4 separate regions of the Homo sapiens genome follow, and all the other regions are linked to region 4. Evidence: fine-mapped expression QTL. A gene starts in region 4. Each other region holds a variant in brackets. All regions are shown on one strand. Distances are from middle to middle. Region 1 has its middle 59 kb from the start of VEPH1. Region 2 overlaps VEPH1 (ventricular zone expressed PH domain containing 1). Region 3 overlaps VEPH1 (ventricular zone expressed PH domain containing 1). Region 4 holds the start of VEPH1 (ventricular zone expressed PH domain containing 1).

Region 1 (7,641 bases), 59 kb before region 4:
ATTCCTAGAAATATACAACCTACCAAGACTGAATCTTGATCAAATATAATACAAGACTATACCTACAATAAGTAGGGAGTTTGTATCGGTAACCAAAAACTTGCCAACAAAGAAAAGCCCAAGACCAGAAGGATTCACTGGAGAATTCTATTAAACACTTAAAAAGTTAATGCCAATCCTTCTCAAACTCTTGTGGAAAAAAGCATTATCCCAAGTGAAATAAAGCAGTCACAAAAGCACAAATACTGCATGATTCTACTTATATGAGGTATCTAAACTAGTTAAACTCATAGAAGCAAATTGTCAAATGGTGGTTACAAGGGTGTGAGGAGGGGGAAGTGGAAAATTGCTGTGCAATGGATATAGAGTTTCAGCAATGCAAGATGGAAAAGTTCTAGAGATATGCTGTACAACAATGCACATATAGTTAAAAATACTTTACACTTAAAAATGTATTAATAGGGCTAATTTTATGTGAGGTGATTTTTACAACAAAAAAAATAAATAAAACATTGTGAGAGTGAGAAACAGAAATTATAGTTCAGAGTTCTAAAGAGGAGGAAGCTCCAAAAAAGAACTCCAGAAATCTGCACATAGGTTACCTGTGCCTTTGGCTGAATAGGAAGGCAAAGTAGGGCAAAACTCCTTTAAGTCAGGCAAAAAACAACTACCAGGGAGAGAAAAGCTACCGGGGTACTATTAACAGAAAAACTACTACGGCTCACACAGGACTAAGAGACATTTGAGTTCTGAACAGGCAGGGGAAAGAGATTATTTAGAAGACAAGAAACATTCATAAAGCACCCAAAAAGACTGTGCCTTCAGAGTAAGGGTAAACAAGCTGTAGAGGCTATGCTAGACCCACTGTAACACAGTTTAAAAACAAGCCTTAAAATTATCAAACTTATTTTCAAATAAGGTAGCTGCTTGCCCAAGTAAACACCAATACTCTTAAAGTTTTCAAGGAAGACTGTCACATTGTTGAGCATAATGTCCAGCATCCAACTGAATATTGAAGACATGCAAAGAAGCAGGAAAATGTGTCCAATAATGAAGAAAAACAAATTAGTCAATAGAAACAGACACCAAAATGATAGAGATGTTGAAATTAGCATGCATTTAATTGTTATAGATATATTCCATATGTTGAAGAAGCTACAAGAAAACATGAACATTGATATGGTTTGGCTCTGTGTTCCCACCCAAATCTCATCTTGAATTGTACTCCCATAATTCCCACATGTTGTGGGAAGGACCTGGTGGGAGATAAGTTGAATCACGGGGACGGTTTCCCCCATACTGTTCTCACGGTAGTGAATAAGTCTCAAGAGATCTGATGGTTTGATCAGGGGTTTCCACTTTTGCATCTTCCTCATTTTCTCTTGGCGCTGCCATGTAAGAAGTGCCTTTCACCTCCCACCATGATTCTGAGGCCTTTCCAGCCATGTGAAACTGTAAGTACAATTAAACCTCTTTTTCTTCCCAGCCTTGGGTATGTATTCATCAGCAGTGTGAAATTGGACTAATACAGGAAATTGGTACCAGTAGAATGGGACATTGCTGAAAATATACCCAAAAATGTGGAAGCAACTTTGGAACTGGGTAACAGGCAGAGATTGGAACAGTTTGGAAGGGTCAGAAGAAAAACAGCAAGATGTGGGAAAGTTTGGAGCATCCTAGAGACGTGTTGAATGGTTTTAACCAAAATGCTGATAGTGATACGGGCAATAAGGTCCAGGCTGAGGTGGTTTCAGATGGAGATGAGGAACTTTTTGGGAACTGGAGCAAAGGTGACTCTTGTTCTGTTTTAGCAAAGAGACTGGCAGCATTTTGCCCCTGCCCTAGAGATTTGTGGAGCTTTGAACTTGAGAGAGATGATTTAGGGTATCTGGAGGAAGAAATTCTAAGCAGCAAAGCATTCAAGAGATGACTTAGGTGCTGTTAAAGGCATTCGGTTTTATAAGGGAAGCAGAGCATAAAAGTTCAGAAAATGTGCAGCCTAACAATGTGATATAAAAGAAAAATCCAGCTGGGCATGGTGGCTCACACCTGTAATCCCTGCACTTTGGGAGGCCAATGTGGGTGGATCACCTGAGGTCAGGAGTTTGAGACCAGCCTGGCCAACATGATGAAATCCCGTGTCTACTAAAAATAAAAAAATTAGCCAGGTGGCGTGGTGGTGGGCGCCTGTAATACCAGCTACTCAGGAGGCTGAGGCAGGAGAATCCCTTGAACCCGGGAGGCAGAGGTTGCAGTGAGCCGAGATCGTGCCACCACTGAACTCCAGCCTGGGCAATAAGAGCAAAACTCGGTCTTAAAAAAAAAAAAGGAAAGAAGAAAAATCCATTTTCTAAGGAGAAATTCAAGCCAGCTACAGAAATTTGCATAAGTAATGAGGAGCCAAATGTTAATCCCCAAGACAGTGGGAAAAATGTCTCCAGGGCATGTCAGAGATCTTCACAGCAGCACTTCCCATCACAGGCCTGGAGGCCTAGGAGAAAATGGTTTCCTGGGCCAGGGCCAGGGTCCCTGTGCTGTGTGTGGCCTAGGGACTTGGCGCCCTGCATCCCAGGCACTCCAGCCATGGCTGAAAGGGCCAACGTAGAGCTCAGGCTGTGGCTTCAGTGGGTGGAAGCCACAAGCTTTGGAAGCTTCCACATAGTATTGAACCTGAGAGTGCACAGAAGTCAAGAATTGGGGTTTGGGAACCTCCACGTAGATTTCAGAACATGGAAACTCCTGGATGCCCAGGTGGAAGTTTGTTTCAGGGGCAGGACGCTCATGGAGAACCTCTGCTAGGGCAGTGCAGAAGGGAAATGTGGGGTCAGAGCCCCCACACAGAGTCCCTGTTGGGATACTGCCTAGTGGAGCTGTGAGAAAAGGGTCACCATCCTCCAGATGCCAGAATGTTAGATCCACTGACAGCTTGCACCGTTTGCCTGGAAAAGTCACAGACATTCAACACCAGCCTGTGAAAACAGCTGGGAGGAAGGCTTTACCCCGCTAAGCCACAAGGGCGGAGCTGCCCAAGACCATGGGAACCCACCTTTTGCATCAGTGTGACCTGGATGTGAGATGTGGAGTCAAAGGAGATCATTTTGGAGCTTTAATATTTGTCTGCCCTGCTGGATTTCGGACTTGCATGGGCCCTGTAACCACTTGGTTTTGGCCAATTTCTCCCATTTGGAACAGCCGTATTTACCTAATACCTGTATCCCCCATTGTATCTAGGAAGTAACTAGCTTGCTTTTGACTTTACAGGCTCATAGGTGGAGGGGACTTGCTTTAGATGAAACTTTGAACTGTGGACTTTTAGGTTAATGCTGAAATGAGTTGAGACTTCGGGAGATTGTTGGGAAGGCATGATTGGTATTGAAATGTGAGGACGTGAGATTTGGATGGGGCCAGGGTGGAATTATATGGTTTAGCTCTGTGTCCCACCCAAATCTCATCTTGAATTGTACTCCCATAATTCCCACATGTTGTGAGAGGGACCCAGTGAGAGATAATTTGAATCATGGGGGCAGTTTCCCCCACACTGTTCTTGCAGTAGTGAATAAGTCTTGTGAGATCTGATGGTTTTATCAGGGGTTTCTGCTTGTGTATCTTCCTCATTTTCTCTTGCTGCCACCATGTAAGAAGTGCCTTTCACCTCCCACCATGATTCTGAGGCCTCCCCAGCCATGTGGAACTTTAAATACAGTTAAACCTGTTTTTCTTCCCAGTCTTGGGTATGTCTTTATCAGCAACATGAAAAAGGACTAATACAAACATGGTAAAAAAAAAAAAAAAAAAAAAGTTAAAAGTAAGATTTTGTAAAAAGTGTACCATAAAATACAAATCATAAGAAAAATAAGTTGGCTATAATACTCAGAAAAAGTAGACTTCAGAACAATAAATATTACTAAAGAAAAAAGAGACATTTTATAATGATAAAGAAGTCAACTCCTCAAGAAGACATAGCAATACTAATTGTCTATGCACCTAACATAGAAACTTGAAATATATGAAGCAAAACTGAAAGAATTAAAAGGGGAAATAAGACAAATCCAGTACTATATTCAGGATTTCAATTCTTCTCTCTCAGTGATTGATGGAACAGTGCTGTTAGCTAACTTCTT[A/G]TTGACTCAGCAAGGATGTCTTCTTAACAAACAGTAGTGTAGAGAAGGCACAAAAAAACCCTATCAACCAGCTTGATCTAATTGACATTTATAGAACATTACACACATTATAATGTTCAGAGGATACATTCATTTCAAGTAAATGGAACATTCATCAAGAGAAATCACATGATAGGGCATAAAACTAGTTTCAATAAATTTAAAGTATCACAATAATACAGATTATGTTTTTTGGCCACAACAAAAATAAATGAGAAAGAAATAACAAAAGATATTTGGGACATCTGCTTTCAACAGTGATAAGTTGGGATTACATTCACCGTCATGCCTGAAATCACAAAATGGACAAAATATATGAAACAATGATTTAGGGGCATTGGACATCAGGCAATGAAGAACAGAGAACCCAGAGAAACCTCAAACAAAGGAGGTGAATGAACCCTATGATTACCCTAACTTATTGCCTGGAGAGAGTCTTAAGGTTGTGTTACAAATATTGGAAAGCCAGGATGTCAGGAGATCGCCCTGAGGAGAAAGAACTGGGAGTTCAGGGAGGCCACAGAGCTAGAGTTTGCAGAATAGAGTACCAGCAAGGATAGAACTGCACAAAGAGAGACCTCTGGACAATCCCTCTCAAATCATCAACTAAATACTTATCAGTATATCCATGTAAAGGAACTACCTAAGATCAAGAGGAAAAACATCCTAAAAGATTAGAAGGAAAACTCTCTGGATCTCCAGCAGAGCCAGGACTAGTGCCTGTTTTCACTATTCAGACTGGAAAAACTAATAACTCACAACACATTGGGTAGAGTACTAAGAAAAGTTTTGCCTTAATAGTGAGGCAAAATTAGGCCCATACAAAAAACTGCTCCCTGTAACATCAGGAACAAGGTGAGGAAATCTGGTCTCACCACTTCTATTTAACATGGTAACAGAGGTTGGAGTCAGGGCAATAACACACAAAAAAAAAGAAATTAAAGACAAACAGAATGTAAGGAAGATGTAAACTGTCTTTGTTCACAGACAATGGGTTTGTTTCTCTCTGAAGGAAAACTTACAGAATCTATGAAAACACTACTAGAACTAACAAGTCAGTTTAGTATATTGCAGGGTACAAGATCAATATATAAAAATCAAATTTTATTTTTACACACCAGCAACAAATAATTGAAAATTGAAATTAAAGTATCAATATCTCTTACAATAGCATGATTACAAATGTCAATCCACAAATTCAAGAACCAAAAAACTGCAAGCAGTAAAATAAAAGAAAACCATACTAAGGCATATCAAAATCACAATGCTACAACCCAGTAATAAAAATAATAATGAGAAAAAATCTTAAAAGCTGCCAGGAAAAATAACAACAAAAAATAACCCAGATACTTTATACACAGAGAAACTTCCATCCATACTTCATACTCTATACAAAAATTAATTCCAAATACCTCACAGGCCAAATGTAAAATCTAAAACTATGAAACATCTAGAAAAAAAACACAGAGTAATAAATTTGTGATGCTGAATTAGGCAAAGATTTCTTGGGTAAGACACCAAAGCACAATGTAAAAGAAAAAAAAGATAAATTGGCCTTCACTAAAACTAAGAACATCTGCTCTTTGAAATACTTTCAACAGAGGGAAAAGACAAGCCATAAGTTGGGAGAGAATATTTGAATAATCCCATATTTAATTAAGAACTTGTAGCCAGAATATATAAAGGGCTCTTAAAACTCAATAATAAAAAAAAATTGTAAAATGAGCCAAAAATTTGAACAGATACTTCACCAAAGACATATGGATAGCAAATGAATGTAAAAATAAGCTCAACATCATATAACATTATAGAAATGCAAATTAAAGCCACAATGAGATACAACTACCCACCTCTTATGATGTCTAAAATTAAAGACTGATCATACCAACTCTTGGTGAGGATTTGGAACATATGACACTCATACCCAACTGATGGAGTGTAAAATGTTTCAAGTATTCAGAAAAAAGGCTGGCTTAAAAATATAAATAAATAAAGCAGGCTGGGCATGGTGGCTCACGCCTGTAATCCCAGCACTTTGGGAGGCGAAGGTGGGTGGATCACTTGAAGCCAAAAGTTCAAGACCAGCCTGGCCAACATGGCGAAACACTGTCTCTATTAAAATTACAAAAATTAGCTGGGCTGGTGGCACATGCATGTAATCCCAGCTACTCAGGAGTCTGAGACACAAGAATCTCTTGAACCCAGGAGGCAGAGGTTGCAGTGAGCTGCGATCATGTCACTGCACTCCAGCCTGGCTGGGCAACAGAATGAGACTCTGACTCAAACAAAAAAAAAAAAAAGGCTAAACATATATATACTTACCTTATGATCTGGCAATTCCACTTGTAGGAATTTACCCAAAAGAAATAAAAACATACCAACCACAGATTTGTACACAGATGTTCATCAAAGCTTTATTCATAATTGCCAAAAATTGGAAACAACACAAATAGATAGCTGAGTAAAAAAATTGTGTCTTAGTCATACAATGGAATCTGTTTAGGATTAAAAAGGAATGGATTACTGATGTATCAACAAATTGGACAAATCTCACATACTGTGAAAGAAGCTAGCCTTCAAAAAGTAAGCACATACTTGATTTATAAATGTTTTAGTATAAGAAAAACTAATATATGGTGTGAGAAAAAAAGATCAGTGTTTGTCCGGCTAGGAGTTCAAGGTGGTAGTATGACTGAAAAGGAGCACAAAGAAACTTTTCAGGTGAATAGAAATGTTCTATATTTTGATTGAGGTGGTTGTTACATGAAATTGTATATATGTCAAAATTTATTGACATGCATTTAAATTGGGTGCATTTTAGTACATGAGAATCATTCCTAAGTAGATTTTTAAAAATTGAGGTAAAATTTACATAATGTAAAGTTAGCCATTTTAAAGTGTACAACTTACTGGTTTCCTGTACATTCATGACGATGGGCAACTATATTCTTTATCTAGTTCCAAAATATTTTCACCATCTAAAAGAAATTCCATGCCCATTAAGTAGTAATACCTAATTCCCCATCTTACTGCCCCTGGCAACCACCAATCTGTTTTCTATCTCTATGGATTTACTTATTCTGAATATTTCATATAAATAAAGTCATATACTATGGGACATTTTGTGTCTGGCTTCTTTCACTTAGCATAATGCTGATAAGGTTCATCTACATTGTAGCATGTATCAACACTTCATTCTTTTTTATAGCAGAATAATATCCCGTTGTATGCATACACAACAATTTGTTTATCCATCATCTGTTGCTGAACATTTAGGTTGTTTCCACCTTTTGGCTATGGTGAATAGTGTTGCTGTGGACATGTATGTACATAGATTTGTTTGAACACCTATTTTAAATTCTTTGGCATTTATATCCAGGAGTGGAATTGTTGGGTCATATGGTAAACCTACTTATTTTTATGAGGAACAATCAAAATGTTTTCCAAAGTCGCTAAACCATTTTTCATTTCCACCAGCCAA
Region 2 (7,641 bases), 97 kb after region 4:
GCAGAGTCTCCTGTGGGTTTGCAATCTTCAGTCCAGAATTTGGCCATGGGGGTAGAGACGGCCTGGAATCACACAAGTTATTGATTGGCTTATGCCTCACCTTCTGTGCTTGCATAAAGCCAGGTGTAAGAACTGCAGGGCTGGCTACTGGGAAATGACAGGGTGTGCCTGTCTTTCAAATGAGTGCCCATCTGGGTGAGCAGACTGTTTTCAACAGCTTGATAGCAGCATCACAATTTTTCCATCTATATTACATTCGGCAGAGAAGAGTTGTATATATAAAACAAAAACCAAAATCCTACAGATTCTTATTTTCTCTATCTCCCAGATTAACTCAGAAATCTTTTTGCCCAAACTTAAATAAAGCCATGTTTAATAATCATATAGTGCTTGTGTCACTGTGGAGGCCATGAATGACTCACAGAACACTTCCAGGGTAGAGAAATTTGCTTCTGGGAGAACCGATCAATTGTTGCCCTTGAGGTGCACCTTTCAGTAAAGATCTATCCAGTTCTTTATAATGCCAGGATTTGCTCCATTTCTCTGGTATGCTCAGTTGAAGTAAATTCATAAATAAGAAATAGTATTTGATTAAATATGTCCAAAACACAGCAAAAATACATGGGTCATTTTGTCTTTCTCAAATGAGAAGGTTGCAGTGGAAACCTTTCAGACAAGAGCAGAAATGACTTCTTAGTAGCACCTAAGGGTTCATTCCCCAAACAACCATCCAGCAGTTTATATAAAACACTTAACACAGTTCCTGGCATATTAAAAAAAAATGCTTGATGGATTTCAACTAACAACAACAAAGTAACAGCAGCAATATAATAAACGAAACCTGTCTAGCTGGAGAGGCCAACGAGAGAGGGAAAAATACAAGTGTGAGTGTACTTCCTCACACAAAGTCTTCTGTGGTCTCATCCACTGCCTATGGGTTATTATGCAAACTCCTTGGCATGGCCCCAGCTTCCTTCTGTAGCTTCACCTCTTACCTGTCCAGTCTACTTCATTCCCCTACATTCTGACTACTCAGGATTTTACACCCTTCCCTGCACACCCTTTACTCTGACATACGTTGAGACCTTCACAGCTTATTCTGCCTGGATAGCTTTTACCCTCTTCTCCTACTTATCTTACCTGACCCAGCTCAAATGTTGCCTCTTCTGTGAGTTCTTCCCAGTCCCCTTAGGCAAAGTTAGTCACTCCCAGTCTATACTTCCATAGTAATTTGGTTGTACCTTAAATGTGTCATGGTTGTATCTCAATTATGTCGTGTTGCAATTTGCAGGTTAATGTCTTTTTCTCCTCCCTATACCTCTCAGCTTCCAGGGGAAATAAATATTATCAAATCCATCTGAATTCATCTGTGGCCATAAGACTGAATGAGTACTTGAGAATACTGGTAATTAAGAATTTGAGGGTTGATTTCTCACTTGAACTTTGATTCCATCAAGTCTGTCTACTTATTCTAGATGACATAATTATAACTTAAGAGAGAGGAGGAGGAAATATTAGTGTGGAGAGGGCTGTATACTTCTGAGCTTATACAATCTATCTCTGATATCTAGCAGGTGAAAGATGAGAATAAAGTTGACAGGGGAATATGGAGTCATTATACAACAAACATGTGATGAGCCAAGGCCATCCATAATGGCTGCTAGGAGGTGACATAAATGAAAGATGATACTGAGTAGATTATAAAGAGATTTTCATATACGAGGCCTCAGCAGGCTGCAAATTGGTTGAAGTACAGCTCCAAGAAGGAGCACTCACCACTGTAGACTGAGCAGTGATCACCACCAAGGAACTCTCTGTGCAAGAATCCATTACATGAATGGATTTGCTTACGATGAGGGCAAAAGTAACACGGTGACTAAGAGGGTGTGCTTAGAGTCAGCCTGCCTTGATTTCAGTCCTGACTCAGCCACTCACCAGCTATGGGCAACTTACATCACCTCTCTTGACTCAGTTTCCTCATCTGTAAAATGGGAATATTATTCACCTCTTAGGTTTGTTGTGAGGATTTAATGAGTTAACCCATGTGGAACAGTATTTAGCAAATAGTAAACATTTGATAAATGCCAGCACTTTATTACTTTACTCAGCATTGTCCAAGTCTTTCTCATTGCACTTATTTGTATACAGGCTAAAACTTGACCCTAACAGACTGAAATTAGGGAGGTGAAAACTAGGGAAATGGCTTACCTTGCCTCTGCTTCTCCAAGGAAAGCAGCTGAATGGGTAGGCATATGTGGGACCAGTCAAAATCAGGAGACAGAATTGGAATGAGGCACCGTAGACAACCACATGTACATTAAAGGTGGAAAGCATAGCTGGCTACACAATTTTTCTTTTTTAGGAAATAACTGGTGTATGTAAATTTTTATTCCTCGGGGTGGAATGTATATCTGTTTTACATTTGTATCGCAGACCACCATTCGTGGGAGAAATAAGGATAACAAAAATAATAAACCTCATTTTGTAAACCTTCATAATTTAAAATAGGCCTTGTTTTCTTGGGCCACTGGAAGTACATTGCTTTCCATAAAGGGTAGGTGGTCCCCACCTCCCCAGCTATATAAACAGCTCAAATAAGTTTGCAGCAATTTTTTAAAAACTCTTAAACTAAATATGAAGTGGTTTAAGTTAAACCCAAACTAGGTTGATGTTTCTCGTCCACAGAGGACCAAAATAGAATGTTTGTTTCCACTTTAGAGGGTTTTACTTTTTCATTATTTCCTTCCCTAATTAGACTCTCTTAGCCACGCAAGTGGTCTCTGCTCACTTGTTAGGTATTATCGTTATTATAGCCCTCTTTCCTAACATGGGTCAACTTGGAAAAGAGAACACTTTAGGAATGGCATTGATTTTTTTTTTTTTTTTGGGAGGCCAACTTGAATTCATGTATCTTTCCATCTATTTAAGCCTCAAATAAGTGAACTGAAACAAATTTTAGTTTAATAGTCATCTTTACTTTACTTTAGGGTCTGGTCTTATTGGAAAGCACATACCAGTATGTAGCATGCACTTCATTACCATGCCCCTCCTCTGTGCCAGACCTACAAGGCAGTAGACCTAGTGGTAGAAACAGAGACAAGATGCTTTAAAATTTTTTTTACAAATGATCTCATAGCACGTGGAAGGATGCTATGGCCACTTGTTTTTCCTTCACTACAGACCAATAGCCCGCATCTGTGAAGAATCAAATAGCATGCCCCTGAGTGCAGCCACTGCCATCGTGTGTGTTAAATCCTGTGCCCTCTGCCTTGTTTTTCTAACTAGCTGGAATATGCTGGCCAAGCACCAGGGCGTGTTCATTACATCCTCTCTGGGCTCAGAGTCATGGACACTTTTCAAGTAAAGAAGTGACACACATCTTGCCCAGGTTGCATTTCTGTGACATCCGGCAGGCCTACAAAAACACTTTCAGGAGGAAAAGGAAAAGAATGACAAAGGCAGCTGAGAGCCACATTACTGTCCTCATCCTGGCTGTTGAATAACATCCTGAGAAATGGGAGCTGGGTGGATGATTTACACCTTTAAATTACAAATCAAGACTAAAAAAAATCTGGGGTCCGTTCTACAAGAGGAAGGACCTGTGACTTAAAAGCACAATTTCCCCAGGGATGATAAACTTAGTTAAAACATTGGTAGGTTCAATGACTTTGGGGATACATTTTCTTAAACCTTGGTTGGTGCCAGTGGCTGCTACTTAATATTATAAAACTGTCATGAATTGGGGAAGGATTTTTTTCCAAAATGAAAATAGCTTTTATTTTTGTTTGTATTGTTAAAAAGGGTACATGTTAACTGTAAATAATATTAGTAATAAACCTCTTACAAAGTATAAGGAAAACAAAGGCAAACTTTGAGTACATACAAAATATACTTTCAAATAAGAGTATTGATGTTGCATATCCTCTCTCCCTCAGTGATATAGGGTGGAGCTGCTGATTCTTTCTAACTGTAAGACCCAGTACTGGTGATG[G/A]GGACACAGAGGAGAGAAAGACATGGTCCCTGCCCTAGAGGATCTCACAACTGGGGATGAGGAAGATGTAAAGACAGATAATTGGAATTTAATTTGGTACTTGCTGTTACTGAATTTTGAACTGGACCAGGAAGGAAGAAACTAACCCCATGTGGGGGAGTTTTAGGAGAGCATTATAAGTTTGGCTTGTAAGATGATAGGGTTATGTCAGGGGAATAGGAAGAAGGTATCCATGGGGAAGTCACCGCATTCAGTGGCAGTCAGCCAGGAAAAGGCTGTGAGTCTTCTAGAAACCATGAAGCATTTCAAGTGCTTGGAGCATAGGATGAATAATGGAGGGGAGGGGGAGAGATGCGGCTGGACAGTGGGCTGGGGTCAGATTATGAAAATTCCATATTGATTAGCAGATAGTTCCTGTTTTCTTCCTTCTCTCAGCTGATTCTAGGAACAGTACTTTATTTCCCTTCATAGTGCGGATAAGTAAATGTAATCCTATGTACCTTAGCGTTCCCAAGAAACTAAAGAGCTGGCGAAAGGACAAACAGTTCCCAAAATACTTGCAAATGTAGAGTAGTAAATAATGGTTACAAAAGTTACATGTTGCAAAAATTTTCAACAATGTCTTGTAATTATTAACTGTAATTTGGGCCAACTGACCAAATCCACAGAAGACCTGCAGTTCCCTGTGAGCTGGGACAGTTTGGCAAGTCCCATAACATGGCTGCACATAGAAGGAGTGTCTGCAAGACCAGGATCAAACTCCAGAAATCGGCAGCCTGGTCCCCGCAGACTTGATCTTCCTCCTTCCAGAGGAGGACGATCTGACTTTCCTACACTGGTGTCTGTGAGGGAAGTAGGTGCCTGCCTCAAGAAAGACAGGAAGCCACCACTTAGTAAGTGCCCTTTCTAGCCATGAGCCTAACAAGTGAACAAATCTCAGATTCACCAGAAAGGACAACTGGGCATTGGCAGCAGGTGAGTTGAAGAGGACGAAGCAGTTGCTAATTCCAGCTCAACTCCTGCTGCTCTTTTAAGATGATAGCAGGTCCTTGCCCTGCCTGTAGCCCTCAGACTGAAATCACTTGACTTCCAACTATTTCCAACAGCCAGTATTTGCATTTCTTTGCCTATGGCTTCCCCAACTTCACAAGCCATTCTGCTAAGACACATGGCGTATGCATGTGAGGAATGAATGCTGTCCCATGGCATCCTACAACCAGTGATGGGAGTTGGTGTTTTGTAAACTTCCAAAACTCCTTTACCCCTCAAATGAAATAAACTCTCCCTAGAATTTCCCAGGCTACTTTTTGAGCTGTTTCCCTTCTCTTTCTCACTCTTCTGTTCCCCTATTGGTTTCCTGAAGTTTTCAAATAAATGATTTGCACTTAAATCATCTCAGGGTCTGTCTGTTTCTGGAAACCCCAATCCAAGACAAAGACATTTCTAGGACTTTCCCAAGCCATTGCAATCTGCCCTGCTGTGAATATTTGAGAACATACATCTATAACACAGAGTTTAGCATCTGATGGTTTTCTGGTTGCATTTGCTTTTCATTTATTTAGTGCATGAATACACACACTCCCAACCCACCATAAGCACTCTGAAGGAAGGAACCATACCTTATACCTCCTCGTGGCCCTGGCATAACCCCCCCTCAAGTAATTAGCTCATAGCAGGTGGCTCACAGGTACTTGCCAACTAACTGTTCCATAGAGACTGAAACTTGGCTGACCATCAGTGTCTTGTACTAGTAGATGGCATCTGATGACATGGCAGGTTGTGTTTGAGGAGGTCAGGAAAACTAGAGACATTGGGTTCCAGTCAACAGTTATGGATACTGGTTTTTCAGGATCTGTCGGTCTCCATCCCATGTGGTCCCCAAAGTGTCCGGACCAGCAGCATTGAGTGTTACTCAGAAACTTAAATCAGAATCCATAATTGAACAAGATGCCCAGGTGGTGTGTATGCACATGAAAGTGTAAGTAGTACTGCTCCTGAGGATCCAGGCCCTACAGGATTTATCTGCTATAGAACCTGAGGGAGTCTAGACATGCCCGCATATATACTACCTGCTTGATGCATATATGTTTCCAGACACACACACAGCTATACCCAATTTTCTTTGCAAGACCCACTTGTTTTTATGTAAATAATCAGTAACCTTTAACAGTCATAATCTTTGACAATGTCAGTATATACATGAAGTCAGGAAATATCATGCATTACCTACAATACAGTTTATGAATATTTATCACACACCTGCTGTATGCAAGGCACTGTATGCAAGTGCAAAGTTAAATAAAATCCAATCCCTCTGCTATAAAAAGGGGCTTTTTTATTCACTTAGAAATGATACTTTACTCACTCGAGCCCAGGAGTTCAAGGCAGTGAGCTATGATTGTGCCACTATATTCCAGTATCACAATAAAATAAAAGAAAAAAAAGATCCTTTAATAGGCAAAAATTGTGATGCATTGACACTTTTGTGTAATATTCTTAGAATTCCTCACTCCATCCCCACTCCTGTATAAAGGGAGAGGGTGTTCCTAAATAATGGTTTACACGGAATATCACAGGTGGGTATGTACAAGTCTTTTCTATTGCTTAAGTTCTTGTTTTTATTTTTTAATGTTATTTGATTTTTTTTTGTAGCTCAAGTAGGATCTGAAAGCATTCCCAGAACTCCCTATAGGATTTGACACAGAGGTATTATCACTATGATGTAAAATCGTGTAACAATTGTACTCTCAAAATATATGAGGAGAGTAATTGGAAGTAGATGAATTTTGTTGCAAAGCCATGACTAACTATACTGTCTTGAAATTATATTTACATTTCAGCCTTCTTCATTATTTATCAAAAAAGTAAAGCCTGAATTTATTTTGTAGTGAGTAGGGCTTAGGAACTTGGTACTGGTTTACATGAACAGAGCTGAAGCCCTCTAAGAAAATATGCATCTAACAGTTGGCTTAGCAACAATACACTATCACACTAAAATGTTCACAGGTATAGATCATAATATTAACCAGATGGTTGCTGTCATCTACGTGTATTCATGTAGATAACATGTAAGAAATTACACTGAGAGGGTATCTTGACATCAGTTTATTTCTTGCTAAGTAATAAAGTAAATGAATAATTATTTATTGCTTTTTAAGATTAATAAATATGAGATAAATAGAAAATAAATGTTTCCATAACTGTTGATGAGTAAATGAAAGTGGTCTGGGTAATGTTTCCCAACCTTCAGTGCAGTATAGATCCTATAAAGGTCTAAACATCTAACAATTCACTCAGAAAAGTAGAAAATAAACCTTTCTAACCATCTTGCTTCATTGAAATCTCTATTTACTATGTGTGGTTGATTTTTTAAATCTCTGGATTAGACTAAACTCCTACTCCTGTCTACATTCTCTCCAGCTCTTCCTTCTGCTGCCTTCTGCTTTAAGAGGGCAAACTTCCTTCCGCTTTAGGCAGCATTCTCCCACAATAAGGGCTCCTATCTCATTCAAATCTTCCTTTCTTCATCCAGAAGAGTTTCCAGAGCCCACCTTCTCCATGACAGCTACACATTTCTAAAGCACTGTTTGTCTACCAACTCCTCCTTCTTGGCTAGTAAATACAAAATAAAGCTAGGGGGTAAGAGAGTG
Region 3 (7,641 bases), 71 kb after region 4:
ACACAGTACAACTGGGTAAACCTAGAATGGGGAAAAAAAGCTGGGGGAAAAAAGGAATATACTTATTTAGTTATTTAGGTATGTTTCTTTTCATAACTTGGTATTATGTGGACATTATATTATTCTACAAGGTTTCGAGGCAAGGATCATGTTTTAAAAGTAAACTTAGAGATTTCTGCTTCTAACAATATATACAGGTCTGTGTTCACATGATATTAATAAAAACTTAAAAGGTACAGATGAGCTCCCATTAAAGTAAGGGGAAAATCCCGGAGCCAAAGATAGAGAGGAAAGCAAAAACAACAATCCCATGAGCTGATGCTAGGGCCCCTCTGGCATAGGAGTGAAGTGAGATAGGGGTTATTAGTTCTATAACCACCAAATGTTGATGACCATGTGGAAGCAAAGCTTAGGCCAAAGGTGGAGAGTTAGAAGGGAGATCCTCATGAAAGCCAGGACCCTCACAGGGTTACCTACTGTATTTCAGTAGGTACAATCCCACTCTGCCCTAGCACAAAGAGGTAGGAAGCAATCATGTCTCTCTTTGAACTCTACAAGGTCCCTTTGAGTTTGTGAAATTGGGCCTGCCCTCAGATATGTTTAGAATTCAAATATATACTATCTGCCACTGTGAAAACAAAAAAGAATTCACAATGATATTTGAACATATGAGGAAGCAAACCACTATAAATGAGAATCAGCAGAAACCAAAAAGGATTAGACACCTCTCCCCAAGAACTGCATTTAGTTGAAATATCAGCCAAAAAACTAGAAAATAAATATGTTTAAAACTACTGAAGCTCTAAAAGAAGGAATTGGAAATATGAGAAAAGAATAAGACATTGTCAAAAAGAAAAAGGCTAGGTGATTTTTTTTAAAGAACCAAATAAAACTTCTAGAATTAAAAAAAAAAGTTAATTGAAAATTTTAAAAGCTCAAGGCATGGATTAAGTGGCAAATTAGGCAAAGCTGAAAAGAATATTAATGAACTGGAAGACAGATATAAGGAAATAATCTAAAATGTGCTGCTTTTATGTTCAGTAATAGGATTCTAAAATCATTTCATTGTTCAGGAGGACGAAAAAGAAATTAATTAATTTTGCTTTGCTCAAAAATATTTGTTATAAGTTTAAGGACAACTACCAAATGGACATAGGCATCCGAATAGAAGGTGCAGGGGGAATTTTTAAAGAAAGACTTGATCTATGAAAAAAAAATTAATGAAGGAGGAAAGAAAAGCACAGAGAAGGATAAGTTAAAAGTACAATATTATTTGCTAAAATTAAATCAAAATATACCAATAATTACCATAAATATTAATGAAACACATTTTCCAGTTAAGAGACAAATATTTCTATTTGTCATATAGAAATATTTTAGTCGGGGCTCACGTTCAGAATCCCAGTACTTTGGGAGGCCAAAGTAGGAGGATCACTTGAAGCCAGGAGTTTGAGACCAGCCTGATCAACATAGCAAGACCCTCATCTGCACAAAAAATTTAAAAATTAATCTGGTGTGGTGATATGCACCTGTAGTCTCAGCTACTCAGGAGGCTGAGGCAGGAGGATCACTTGAGCCTGGGAAGTGGAGGCTGCAGTGAGCTGTGATCACACCACTGCGTTCCAGCCTGGGCGACAGAAAGAGACCCTGAAAAAAAGAAAAGGAGAGAGAGAGAGAAGAAATATTTTAAAAATCCAGCTATACATCACTTACAAAAGCTATGCATAAAACATAAAGTAGAAATGTTAAAAGTTAAAAGCTTTAAATTGGAGGGGAGGAAGAGAACACACCAAGCAAGTATTATTCAAAAAAGCTAGCATAGCAGTAGTAATATCAGTAAAAAATAGACTTAGGCAAAAGAGGATAGTTAAATTATGATACAAAGAAATACTTTAACAGGAAGATATCTCTGAATTATCTAGTAATATAGTTTCAAAAAATATAAACCAAAGGTTGACAGAATTATAAGGAGAAATGGGCAAATCCATAATCATGGAGGGAGATTTTAACAAAGCTGATAAGTTCACATATATCATAACTGATCATTCAAATGCGAAAAAAAAGCCTGCCAAAGGATACAGAAACTTAAACTACATAACTTAAAGCTTGATATAATGAAGTATATAGAGTACTGCCCAGATGGTTTGATGGACAAGTTCTACCAAACATTCAAGGAACACATAATCCCCGTTTTGTACAAACTGCTTCTGAGAATAGAGTGTTCAGGAATGTGCTAAATTCATTTTACATGTCTACTAAGTATGATACCAAAAAGAGAAAAGGACAATACAAGAAAGGAAAACTGCAATCTCTCTCATTAAGAATGTTGATGCAACAGCTCTAAATAAAGTATTAGCCAAACACAGCAATATGCATAAAAATACACATTATGCACAGCAATGTGCATAAAAATATATCATAAGCAAGTTGAGTTTATTCCAAGACTGCAAGATTGATTAAATGTTAGAATAGCTGTTAACTTATTACATTAACAGTTTAAAGGAGAAGAATCATCATATCAATAGATGAGAAGAATGTTTGATAAAATTCAGCACTCAAAATAATCAAACTAGAAAGCAGACAGGAACTTACTTAAACTGAAAAAAACATAAATACCAAAACCTATAGAAACAGATACATATGTAATTGTAAATCCTTGGAAACATACTTTTGAAAAGCAGGATTAACACAAGGATACCCGTGGACAGTGACTCTATTCATCAAAGTGTGTATTGGAAGTCCCTGCCCATAAAGTAGGACATAAGGACATAAGGAGAAGAAACATAAGGATTAGGATGGAAAGAAATGAAGTTGTTATTATTTATCATGAGTGGATCATCTACATAAAGAAAAATCTAAGAGACTCAAAAGACATATTAATAAGAACTGAGCAACTTTTGTTGGATATAAGATCAACATACAAAAATCTATTGCTTTATTAATACCAGCAGATAAATTGAAAATGCCTTTGCAAATAAAGTTTTCATTTACAGTAGCAAAAATAGCTATGGGATACCTAAGCAACAATTTAACATAAGACAAAGCTAATTATAACACCTTATTTAAAAACATAAAAAGATCTACATAGACAGAAAGATAAATTATCTCCTTAAATGAGAAGACTCAGTTTTACGAAGATGTCAGTTATGCCAAATTAGTCAATATGTTCAATATGAAAAAGAAGTCCCAGTCTGGTTTTTCAAGGATGTTGACAGACTGATACTAAAATTTGTATAGAGTAGCCAAGAAGAGCTTGAAGAAGTAGGAGGTCAGGAAGTAGGTCCTATGGGATATAATGATTTATTATAAAATTATTGTAATTAAGAAAATGTAGACTTGATGAAGAGATGGATAAATGCCCAGAAACAGACCCAAACACATATGGAAAACCTAATATATGAAAGAGGTGTGGCAAATCAGAAGAGTAACAATTGACTACTCAATAGAAAAAATTATTTGTATACAAAGAAAAACATATAATTAAACTTCTTCCTCCTATGTACCAAAGTCATTTCCAGACAGATTGAAGACAACTACAAGAAAGCAAAACCATAATGCCTTTAAGAGAAAATATAGGAGAATATTTTTATGACCCTGGAATACAGAAAAATTTCTAACAAAAAAACCTAAACCATGAAGTAAAAAAATGAAAACAGTTGACTATATTAAGAATATAATTTTAAATCAATA[A/T]ATCAAAAATTCATTCAGTAGCTCAGAATAATTAAGGAACTTCTAAAAATTAATAAGAAAAAATGGCAACATCCTAATAGCATATAGGCAAAGAATGTGAATGGCCAAATCACAAGTGAGGAAATCACCTATAAATATATGAAAAGGGCTGGGTGTGGTGGCTCACGCCTGTAATCCCAGCACTTTGAGAGGCTGAGGCGGGCAGATCACAAGGTCAGGAGTTTGAGACCAGCCTGGCCAACATAGTGAAACTCCATCTCTACTAAAAATACAAAAAAATTAGCTGGGTGTGTTGGCAGGCACCTGTAATCCCAGCTATTTGGGAGGCTGAGGCAGGAGAATCACTTGAACCCATGAAGCGGAGGTTGCAGTGAGCCAAGATCACGCCACTGCACTCCAGCCCAGACAACAGTGTGAGACTCCATCTCAGAAACAATTATATATATATGTATATATATAATTTGTTATATATAATATATAACAAGTAATTGGGAAATGAAAATTAAAGCAAAAATATTAGATACATCCCATCAGATTAGCAAACACTGATGTCTGTCACAACCAAATGTTGGCAAGAATGTGGACCAACAGAAACACTCATGCTGCTGGTGGGAGTAGATTGTCATAATCTTGGTGGTAGGCAGAATACTGGTCCCCCAAAGATGTCCATGTTCTAATCCCCGGAACCTGTGAACATGTTATGTAATATGCATTTCAGATAGAATTAAGGTTGCTAAATAAGATAGGGAGATAATCCTAGATTATTCAGTTAAACCCAATACAATCACAAGGGTCCTTAAAAGTGGAAAAGGGAAGCAGAAGAGAGAATCAAGGGGAGAGATGAGATGAAGGAACAGGGATCAGAGAGATGCCATGTTGCTGGCTGTGAAGATGGAGAAAGGGGCCACAAACCAAGAAATTCAGGCAGCCTCTAAAAGCTGGATGTATCTGTCTGTTTTCACACTGCTATAAAGATACTACCTGAGACTGGGTAATTTATGGAGAAAAGAGGTTTAATTGACTCAGTTCCACGTGGCTGAGGAGGCCTCAGGAAACTTACAATCCTGGCGGAAAGCAAAGGGGAAACAAGGCACGTCTTACATGGCAGCAGGAGTGAGGGAGAGTACAGCGGAAACTGCCACTTTTAAACCATCAGATCTCATGAGAACTCCCTCACTATCATGAAAACAGCATGGATAAAACTACCCTTATGATCCAACCTCCTCCCACCAGGTCCCTCCCTTGACACGTGAGGATTACAATTCAAGATGAGATTTAGGTGGGGACACGGAGCCAAAGCATATCACTGGTTAAGCCAAGGAAACAAATTCTCTCCTAGAGCATCCAGGAAGGAACCCAGCCCTGGGCACACATTGATTTTAACTTAGGGAGACTTATGTCAGACTTCTGAACTACAGAAATATAAGATAATAAATTTGTGTTATTTTAGGCCACTAATTTTGAGATAATTTCTAATAACAGCTATAGAAAATGAATACAACTGCTTCACAAAGAAATTTTGGAACATCTACAAAGTCAACTCCTAGGGACATACTCAGTGCTTTGCCACTTAACTAACTATTTGGTCAATGGACCATCAGTGTCACCTGAGAGCTTGTTAGAAATTCAGACGCTCAAACCCTACCTCCAACCTGTTGAATCAACATCTGTGTTTTAAAGATATGCCCAGGTGACTTCTAAGCACATTAGACTCAGAAGCACTACCCTAAGAAATATCTCTCATTTTTGCACAAAGAGACAGTTATTTCAGCATTATTGATTAAGGCAATGAATAATAATGACAACATAATGTCTTTCAATCACAGAGAGTATATGAATAAGTTGTTGCATATTTATACACTGGAATAACACATGGCTGTGAGAGTAAATGAAGGAGAGCTTCTTGGAGATATAACTCCTACAAAATGTTGAATAGGAAAAAAATATGTTGCGAAGGGATGTGTAGAGTATGATGGTATTCACATAAAATTTTAAAGCATCCAAAACAATACTATATAATGTTTATTGATACATACGCATGTAATTAAAGTGTAAAAATACTTATGGAGATCATAAATACTCCCTTTAGGATGATGGTTGCCTCTGGGGAGAAAAGGAAACAAATGGGATGAAAAGCAATTATCATATAAGGTTAAGTTTTGACAAATCTGGTTGGTAGGCACACCAATGTTCCTTATATTATTGCCTACATTTGTTTGATGACTTGAACTATTTCATAATTTAAAAGAAGGTATTATTGACTAATGGAATTTATAAGATTTCTGCAAAAGTTCTGCATTTGTTTTTTGTATTATTTGATTGAAATTCAAGTCAGCTGAAAAATGACTAATCTGGGGTTTTTCCCTTCAAGGCTCCCAGGGCCTCTGTAGTGAGTTTTGTACCGAAATGCCATGCAACAGTTTCCTGTCTTAGACTGCAACTACAGTCCCTTTTAATGTGACCATTTTTAGCAGTTGATCAGTATGTCCTCATAACTAAGTTCTATAATCTAACTTGGGCTTTACAAATTGGGTATTGCATTAAAAAATTCCTGATCTTTTAAGGAGACGCTCATAGTAAAATAAACAGAAAACAAAACAAATTGTTGAAAATTAAACTATTGAAAATAAATACTGACGAACACAACCTTTTAAAAGAAAACTCTAAATATTTCCAACAACTTGTATTCTGGGGAACATGATAAAACCTGTTTTAGACTTATTCTATGAACTACATGTGGAAAAAACAATTCTCATTTTTTATTATCTCCCAAATTCATTCAATTCATTCAGTTTTATCCAGAATCACGCTTTCGTTAAATTTAGATATTGATATTCTGAAAATTCTGGCCTTCTTTCTTTAATGATCATATCTAAATTGTCTTTTATATATAGGCATGTTCCTACCATTTAATGAAGGTCCATATATGTGTAATTCCTTCTTATTTGATTCTTTCTGTGTATGGCTTCTATATACAAAGCCAAATTTAAAGTAAAAGTAGAGTCAAAAAAATTCTTGTTCAAAAAATCCCTAGAAACCAATTCCCCTGAGACATTTAAGTACTTGTGAGGATTTTGAGAAAAAAAATCTATACCATAGAGTGATAAGCAGATGTTGCCCATATGTTGATTGCAGATAAGTTTCTATACGTTATGTAATAGTTTTCTTGAGGTTTTGCCATTATAAATCTAGTTGTCTATACATATCTTTGAGGAAATTATGTGTGACAAATCAGCTGAGGCTAAACTTCCCTTGAAATAGTGCAGAAATTGGGGATTTAAATTTGCATTACTACTTCTTAAACTATTCATAAAATAAGGCATAGTTTCTGTATGTGAGTTGTCTAAATTATGATTCTGTGTCTTCCAGGAATGTGAATTCATTCCTTTGCACTTTTTTTGTTGTTCAGTTTCATTTAGGTCCATGATTACAGCACTGCTTAGTTTTCATTTAAACATCGTTTAAATTTTGTTTATCATCAGGAATTCTTTATTGGAACTGTTTCCTTCTCAAGGGTGTGGTCTGATTACTGTCAAAGTTCCTCTATCCCCATGGTGCATTACTTAGCAAAATTTTTCATTAGTTAATGGTGCTGATTATATCATAAAATATTTCCTTTTGTGGAATCGGATTAAATCACATTTTAATCTCAGAATAAGGTACCATGTTATTTTTAGCAAAAGAATTGGCCATCAGTCTGTGCTATTTAATGTGTAAGTGCAAATATTATTACATTGGTAATAATGTTATTTCTGTTGCTCATGGCCTGATAAAGTCATCATTCCCTTTATTGTTCCCTCAACAGGTAACACCATGTTGTTGAGAGTGTTACCTGCTGTGTATGAAAAGCAGCCTCAGCCAATTAATAGACACCTGACAGAACTCCTGGCCTTGATGTCTCAGCTGGAACAGCCAGAACAGTACCATCTACTACGGCTTTTGCATGTAGCA
Region 4 (7,641 bases):
TAGCCAGACAAGAAAGGATGAAGAATTTACAAAGACAATAGCTATTTATCTATGACAGTAGATAGGGGGAAAATGGTTGTATATTCATTTTCTGTTACTCTGTAACAATTACCATGAACTTAGTTACTTAAACAACACACATTTATTATTTCATACTTTCTGTGGGCTAAGAGTTCAGTCTTGGCTTAGATGGTTCCTCTGCTCAGAATCTCACAGGGCTGTAGCCAGAGCATTGGCTGGGCTGTGTTCTCATGTGGAAGCTTGTCTGGGGATCTTCCAAGTTCACTAAGGTTGTTGGAAGAATTCATTCATTTGTGTCTGAAGGACTGAGGGCCCTGGCTTCTTGCTGGTTGTTGGCTGCAGGCCACCTTTAGCTCCTAGACTCTACTCATAGTTCTTTGTCATGTGGGCTTTCTCAACATGGCCCATTACTCCATCAATCCAGCAAGGAGACTCTCTAGAGGAAGTTTGCCAGCAATATGGAGCCTTAGCAATATAAGGCAATCACAGGAATAGCATTTTATCATCTTACTTCATTCTATTCATTAGAAGCAAGTCACAAGTCTCACCTATACTCAAGTGGGAAAAATTACACAAGGGGGAAATAAACACCGGAAAGTGGATCATCGAGGGCCACCTTGGGATCTATCCAGAATGTTAAGGACACAGAATAGATAAGACCCAGAGAGTCACTGGATGTGGGTAAGAAAAGGAAGGGGAGAAATACAGGATGACACTCAGCTTTCCTGTTTGTATACTTGGTAGATGGTGAGGGCCCTCACCAAAATAAACACGGAAGGAGGAGCTAGTTTGGGAGAATAATGAGTCTTCTTTAATTTGGGAGCATGTTTTATCAAAATGTTCTTTATTATAATGAAAAAAAATGAATAAACCTTAGCCATAGGGCCCTATTCCTGTTCTTAAAGAAACTTGACTCTTGGCCGGGTGCAGTGGCTCATGCCTGTAATTCCAACACTTTGGGAGGCTGAGGCTGGTGGATCACTTGAGGTCAGAAGTTTGAGATCAGCCTGGCCAACATGGCGAAACCCTGTCTCTACTAAAATACAAACAAACTAAAAAAAAAAAAAAAAAAAAATTAGCCGGGTGTGGTGGTGTGCGCCTGTAATTCCAGCTACTAGGGAGGCTGAGGTGGGAGAATTGCTTGAACCCAGGAGGCAGAGGTTGCAGTGAGCCAAGATCGCACCACTGCACTTCAGCCTGGGCAATAGGGCGAGACTTCTTCTCAAAAAAAAAAAGAAAGAAAGAAAGAAAGAAAGAAAGAAAGAAACTTGACTGTCATAGTTCATGCCACATGCTATTTTGCTGAGCCAAAAGGGAGTTCCTGGCTGTGTCTGAGTTTTTGTGCCTGCAATGGACTCTTCAAAGCTGGAAGGCTGACCATAGAAATGGTGTGCTTACAGGAGCTTTCATGATTACAGGTAAGAAAAACTGTTTATAGAAAATGAAATCATTCAGAAGTTCTCAGTGTTTATATGTAACTCACCTATGTAAGTTGCCTTAGAATTTACCTCTTTTCTGTAAAGAAAACGTCTTTGTCTGATTTTGTGGTTACAGACAATGTTTTATTTCAAGTTTCCCAAAGGAGGGGAAGGAGTGAGAGTTAGACAAGAACAGAGGGGAAAAATAAAGACAAAGCAATACTCTGTAAAACTGATTACTCAAATACATTTTTGACAAACAGGTGTAATATCTGGTTGCTGTTGCCATTCTGCCACCAAGAAACCTGATGACTTCATTTGGGCCTCTTCAACCAGCTGCCCCTAAAGCTAGCAAGCTCCACCCTTCAGTGTCCACTGATAAATTCCTTAATAGCGTAAGTGATTTTAGGAAATTTTTGAAAATTGTGTATGAATGGATGGATTCCATGACAAGGGTATTGAGGTCAAATGGTATGTGGCTAGGTACTGCCAGGCAAGTCTAAGAGATTAAATTTAATTATTTTGGGGGACTCAAGTATTGAGGAAATGACTATGTAGCTGGTTAGGAAAAAATAATTTAGAAGGTCCTGTTTTCAGGTACACTGAATGACTACATTCCTTTCCAGGCCTTTCTTGCATCTGCTAGTTGTCAGAGGAAGCCTGTGGTTGTCACTGAAGGAGCCCATTTGTCATAGATAGTTCCTGTTGAGTCTCTTAGTCCACTTAATTTTCAATGAGCTGCACCCAGGAGAGACTTCCCACAAAACTAGGTTAGGCTGATTCTGTCAGGTGGAAATTTTTTAATGGTAAATGGCAGAAAACCCAATCTAAAATCACTTAAGCTATTAAGGAATTTATTAGTGTACACTGAAGGGTAGGTCTTGCTAGCATTAGGGGCAGGTGGTTTAAGGGGCCCAAATGAAGTCAACAGTTTTCTTGGTGGCAAGAGGGCAATAGCAGCCAGACCTTACACCTTCTTATCATCAAGTCCAGCAGCTTAGACTTTTTACTCCCAAAGCTGAGCTTTCATCATTGTCCTCTCATTGGCCTAGAAGGGGTCGCACACCTGCCCTGCATTAGTCACTATGATCACAGGAATGCAATTACTCTAATTTGGGTAAGACCAATTAAGGCCCATCCTGTTTATGGGCATCAGCTGTACCCAAAGGACATGGTTTCCCAAGGGAAATTTGGGTGCAGTTTTGACTAAAAGTAGAGTAAGTGAATGTTGAGTGTCAAACACAAGAGAAAGTAATCTTCACCCCATGAGTAGTCCTTTTAATTGGACTAGTAATTTTTTTACATGCAGCATGATTGCCACTGAATGGAAATATTTTTATTTCCACTTGTACATCTTACACCTGACTTTCCCCACTGCAGCCCCCGCCCCCACCCTCCCTGTTACCCTCACATGGTTTGACTGAAAGTTCCGGTCGGGAGAGACTCAGAAATGTTTTATCACTTTATGTGAAGGCAAAACCTCAGATCAATAAGGGAAGAAAGCCCATGCCATACACTTAAAGGGAGAGAAGAGCCTCTAGATATAATAATCCACTGGGCACCACCAATTAATTTATGCATTAGAGGTTTTAAAGTGCATTCTCCTTAAAAGAGAGAGAGAGATGAGGCGATGTGGGAGTGCTTGTGAGGGATCCCCAATGAATTAGGTTTGAAAAGATGAGTTCTATATTTGGATGGTAAAAGGAAGGAGTTAGAAATTTGAGTGGATGCAAGAAGGAACCATGAGGGTTCAGAAAAATCTCTAGTGCTACCAGGGAAGTTTCATTAAGTTGTTGTGTGTTTCGTAAGCAATACCAATAGTATAATTAGACTTTTGCTCCTTTACCCTAGCTATTTTGCTTCTCTTGTGGTATTTTTCTTCTATCATATTTGGCTTAAATACCATTTCATTCCAGTGCTTCCCTTCCTGCATTCCCTCCCCAAGCCTTTTTCCTGATGCCTGCTAAAAGGCCCCACATCTGATATTAACCTAAAACTTCCTTGATTTCTTAAAGTGAGTTATTCATTAACAGAACCTAAATTACTGGTTGTTAGGCAAATCTAATTCTTTCAAACTACAGATCTGCTCAGAGAAATCTGTAAATCTAGTGTAGAAATAAGTGAAGCTTTGCGTCAATTGTTAGGTCTAAGCAGAAGTTTGGGAGAGAGAAGAAAAGTTACTCATTTGCCTGATTCCGCACGGTGAGTCAATGGGGAGGGAATGAAATGTACCACTGGCTTGACAGGCAGCTCAGGGAGACGCGGCTGCAGCCCACAGGACTGGGCAGCAGCTGCAAGGCTGCCTCTGAGCATGGTCATGGGTCCCAGCTGCAGTGCTCTAAAGATCAAGGATTTTGCCTTCTATTTTCTATGACCAGAGATTCCTGTGCAAAGAGGTATGGCTATCTTCTTTCATGACCTTTTGTTCAGCAAAAACAAAAGCTAATTAAAGTAAATGTCAGAGGCTGCAAAGAAGCAAAGAGTGGGGGATAGGAGAATGGAGCTGAGAAACTTCCAGGGGCTGGCTGATTATGCAGATAAAGCACATTTGGGAGCTGTGTGTCTAGCCATGTATGCAGGCATTTCGGTTATTAGAGTAAAAATGCCACTTCTCTGTGGGTTATTAAAACATGTCTCTAGGCCTCAGGAGCAGAAAGCTGTGCTTCTAGATTCATATCATGTGCATTTTTGTTTTACTCCGTAATAATCTAGTCTCATTTCTATTTTATACTTTTGTTTACTTCAATCAACATTTTGCAACCAGCAAAGAAACTGGCTCTGCCTACGGATTTTCAAAGAAAATTAAATATTATAGCATCATTACAGTCAGTGGGTTGAACAGGGTCACCATTACTGTTTGTTGCTGCTGCCGTTTTTTCCTTTGGTGTTTCAGATATCTTACAAATCATAATTAAATCTAACCACTTTTTTACTCTTTCAGATACACACTTAAATTGTTGTAGTAATCAACCATTGGATTAAATGACATTTATATATTTTTGATTTAAAAAGCAGAAAAAAATATTTAGAGAAATATTTGAGTTGGTCATATAGATATTTGGTACATGAAACTTAAATGTAAATGAAGATACATTTAACATTGAGTTTTCCATGTAGTTTGAGAGTTTTGGTACATTTTCTGGAAGAACAAACCCACGAATTTGAATTAGGATTTTTCAGCAAGATTTGTATTATTCCAGAGCAAAAATGACCAACAAAGTCAACATTTACAGGTGAAAATGAATACACTATAAAATTATGACAAGTCACAAAAGCCTTGATTTTAGAAAGTTTATTAGACTTGAAGATAAGTGTTTCTCATCCTTTTTGAAGGAAATGTTTCCTATTTGTGTTTTAATAAGTTGAAATAGGTAATCAAAATTAAGTAGTTTTTTGGGCTCTTGACTAAATAGGTCACCAAATCTATTTTTTTCATGTACTTATGAAATAAGCCTGCTACAAACTTAGATCGTATGTACTCTAGCAAAAAGACAGGGCTGAAGCCTTTAGCATTGCTTAGAATAAGCCAGACTCAGAGGCTTTCAGTAGAAGTGAAGTGTAGCAGCACGCCACAGCCAAGGAAGCCCAGAGACATCCAGGGAACAATAGACATCTTGTGGGAAGGGCTGAAATGTATGCAGCCAATTCCCATGGGAACGCCTGTAGTCCTTTCACGCTGTGTGAAAAAGATGCTCCTTCAAAAGAATCTGTAATCCTTTCTTTCAAGGGAAAAATCTGAGAACTTTATTGAAAGTTTCTAGAGCCCAAATGGGTCTAAGTTTGTTAATGAGCATTTTTAATACAGGTGAATAAAATGAAAATGTTTTGATGCAGAGTAATGTAGTCTAAAGCGTAATGTAAATAAATATTGTCATTCTAGAATTTTCTGAAGTGAGGAAGCCAGGGTATACCCTAACCTAAGTTGCAAGCTAGAGGCTGAATTCTTCAGAATAAGTTGGTTTCTTGAGTTAATTATGGTGATTGAAATCTCCCCCAAGAGTTTCAATTATTCTATAGGCAGTATCCCAATAGTGTGGCGATTAAGTCCTCCAGTTCATGTATATTTTCATTTAGCAGAATCTACAGATGCATAATAGAGTAAGCCACTAATGTTTTATTAGTGGGCATTGAGTGTACGTCACCTTGAAAAGTAGTAAAGAAAGTAGCTGGAGCCCTGGAGGGCCACTCCTTTCTCACTAATAAACACGGGAAGGAGTGCTACACTTCCATGGAAAACTCAGGTGTTTGGATTACCCAGCCACAAAAAGTTTGAGATACATTGTATTCTAGCCCATTTCTGCTCTGTAAAAACATTCACTGTTATTGTTCAACCTTGGTGTGGGTAGGATCACCGTAAAACTATCTCTCCAGGAAACAAGATAAGGTTGCCAAAAAATCAACAGGGACCCATTCAAGAGAATGAAGTTTACAGATGAAAAGTGAACAACCCAGAGGTAAGGACAGGATGACTAAGATAGAGAAAGGACAACAAAGATATAAATATGGCTCAAATGGAAACAACCTAAACATCTTTAGCTCTGTGAACCCAATTTAGTGAACAGTACAGTCATGTATTAATTTTTAAAAGGTATGGCATGGGGATGTGTTAACTGGTGGACCATCTATAGGAATAATAGTACTCTTAAGGATATGATTGCTGGCACTTTTTCTGTGGTTGCCATATGCCAGGCTCTGTGTTAAATGTTTTATATCATCTCCTTAAACCTCCCAACAACCCATATCACAATCCTCAGGAGCAAAGGAGGAATTCCAGGCTCAGGGAGTCTAATTAACCTGCCCACATTTACACTGCAGGTAATGGCATAGCTGAGCTTGGAATCCAGTTGAGTCTAGATTCCCATACTCTTATCACTCTGCTCTTCTTACTGGAGTTCCATAGAGTGTCCAATTCAGGACTCTACACCCTTTAAAAAAATAAAACTGGATAAAAATCTAGGGATTAAAAATCAGTAATAATGAATAGAGGATTAAAAGGGAAGGCTAAAGCAATATCATCTATTCCATTAAAAGACGAAACTTCATTAGTATATTGTAAATTAGAAAAACTACTAATGAAAAAATACAGCTACTCATGAATGACTGGATTCTTGATTTTTATAAAGGAATTCTTCAAGGGGATAGTTCTCCAAATGTGGATGGCATAAAAATATGATTGATCACCAACTGTCTAGGCAGATTTACGAGGTCGTTCTCCTGGAACATATGACCTGGTTTAACTGTGGCCACCCTGACCACACCCTTTGAGTAGACACACCCTAGTGAGCACAAAGATGAGATTATCTGCAGGATAGCTGCCTGTACACATTGCCAGAAGTGAGATGATTTGATATAGCTATAGATCTACCACAGGAACAGACGACTTAGGGGTCGAGAAGAATGCAGTCTTAAAAACCTTGCTTTTTAAAGTGCACTGTTAACTGTTTAAAGAATAAAGGAAGGTTCCAGTGCCCTTTTCTCCATCGGAGTGTCAGTAGATTAAGCAGGATAAACCTTTTGCCTGAGTGTTGCTGCAATATTTAAAAGTACAAATCCAATATTTCTGGTCCACGTGGATTTCTATGAATAGCTTCCCAGCAAATAACGAAAAAAAGAGAGTACGTATGTTGTGAAGTTTGTTCTGTTTATTAGCAACTTCCCGCATACTTCAACTTTCAACAATTTTACTCTAGAGGCAGAGTAAAGGGATACTTTCTTTAGGAGGTGACTCTTACTGGACGAACACTCAGTGTTTCCAAAACGTTTGTGAGATCTCAGGGAGAGGGAAGTGTTAATGAAGCTGCAGTTCTCTTCTCCTCCCCTGGAGCTCTGAGAGGTGGCTCCCTACAGCCATTCCGTTCACCTGCTTGAGTTCTGTTGAAAATTGTTTCCTGCGTGGCTCGCCCCCGCCCCCCATTCTTCCCTGGGAAAGTATAGATTTTCACGAACACAGGGAGTTCTGTTTTCTCTGTTAAAAACAACTCTCCTTTACTGGAGCAGGCTTTGTGTTTCACCTCAGGAAACAGAGCGTTGCACTGGGAGGTAACTCCGCTGGGTGAGGTGCAGCCTGTCACCTGACCGGTCTCTGGGGCTGCCGGTGGCATCAGGCTGCATTCCTTGAATTCTTCCACCCGGCACCGGCTCCGCAATGAACAACTTCAGGTTCACTGAGCTGAGCGGATTCCACTCGCTGTGCCCTCGGAGC

Evidence for each region. PIP is the estimated chance that this variant, and not a neighbour inherited with it, causes the effect.
Region 1: its variant is the best candidate, but not a certain one, in a credible set for the expression of VEPH1 in fibroblasts (GTEx, PIP 0.86).
Region 2: its variant is the best candidate, but not a certain one, in a credible set for the expression of VEPH1 in testis (GTEx, PIP 0.78).
Region 3: its variant is the best candidate, but not a certain one, in a credible set for the expression of VEPH1 in testis (GTEx, PIP 0.53).

Annotation. Positions count from the first base shown.
Region 1 is chr3:157,558,537-157,566,177 of GRCh38, reverse strand. It overlaps the pseudogene SLC66A1LP. Among named protein-coding and RNA genes, the nearest start is that of VEPH1, 59 kb to the right of the region's middle. The variant A/G (reference allele first, on the strand shown) is at 4,122.
Region 2 is chr3:157,402,239-157,409,879 of GRCh38, reverse strand. All of the region lies in intron 6 of VEPH1 (ventricular zone expressed PH domain containing 1), which reads left to right. Among named protein-coding and RNA genes, the nearest start is that of PTX3, 31 kb to the left of the region's middle. The variant G/A (reference allele first, on the strand shown) is at 3,992.
Region 3 is chr3:157,428,343-157,435,983 of GRCh38, reverse strand. It overlaps VEPH1 (ventricular zone expressed PH domain containing 1), which reads left to right. Exons shown (of 14, transcript NM_001167912.2): 5 at 7,496-7,641. Among named protein-coding and RNA genes, the nearest start is that of PTX3, 4.7 kb to the left of the region's middle. The variant A/T (reference allele first, on the strand shown) is at 3,691.
Region 4 is chr3:157,499,471-157,507,111 of GRCh38, reverse strand. VEPH1 (ventricular zone expressed PH domain containing 1) reads left to right here and starts at 3,696. Exons shown (of 14, transcript NM_001167912.2): 1 at 3,696-3,835. RefSeq lists a silencer at 3,669-3,903 and enhancers at 6,976-7,539, 7,540-7,641.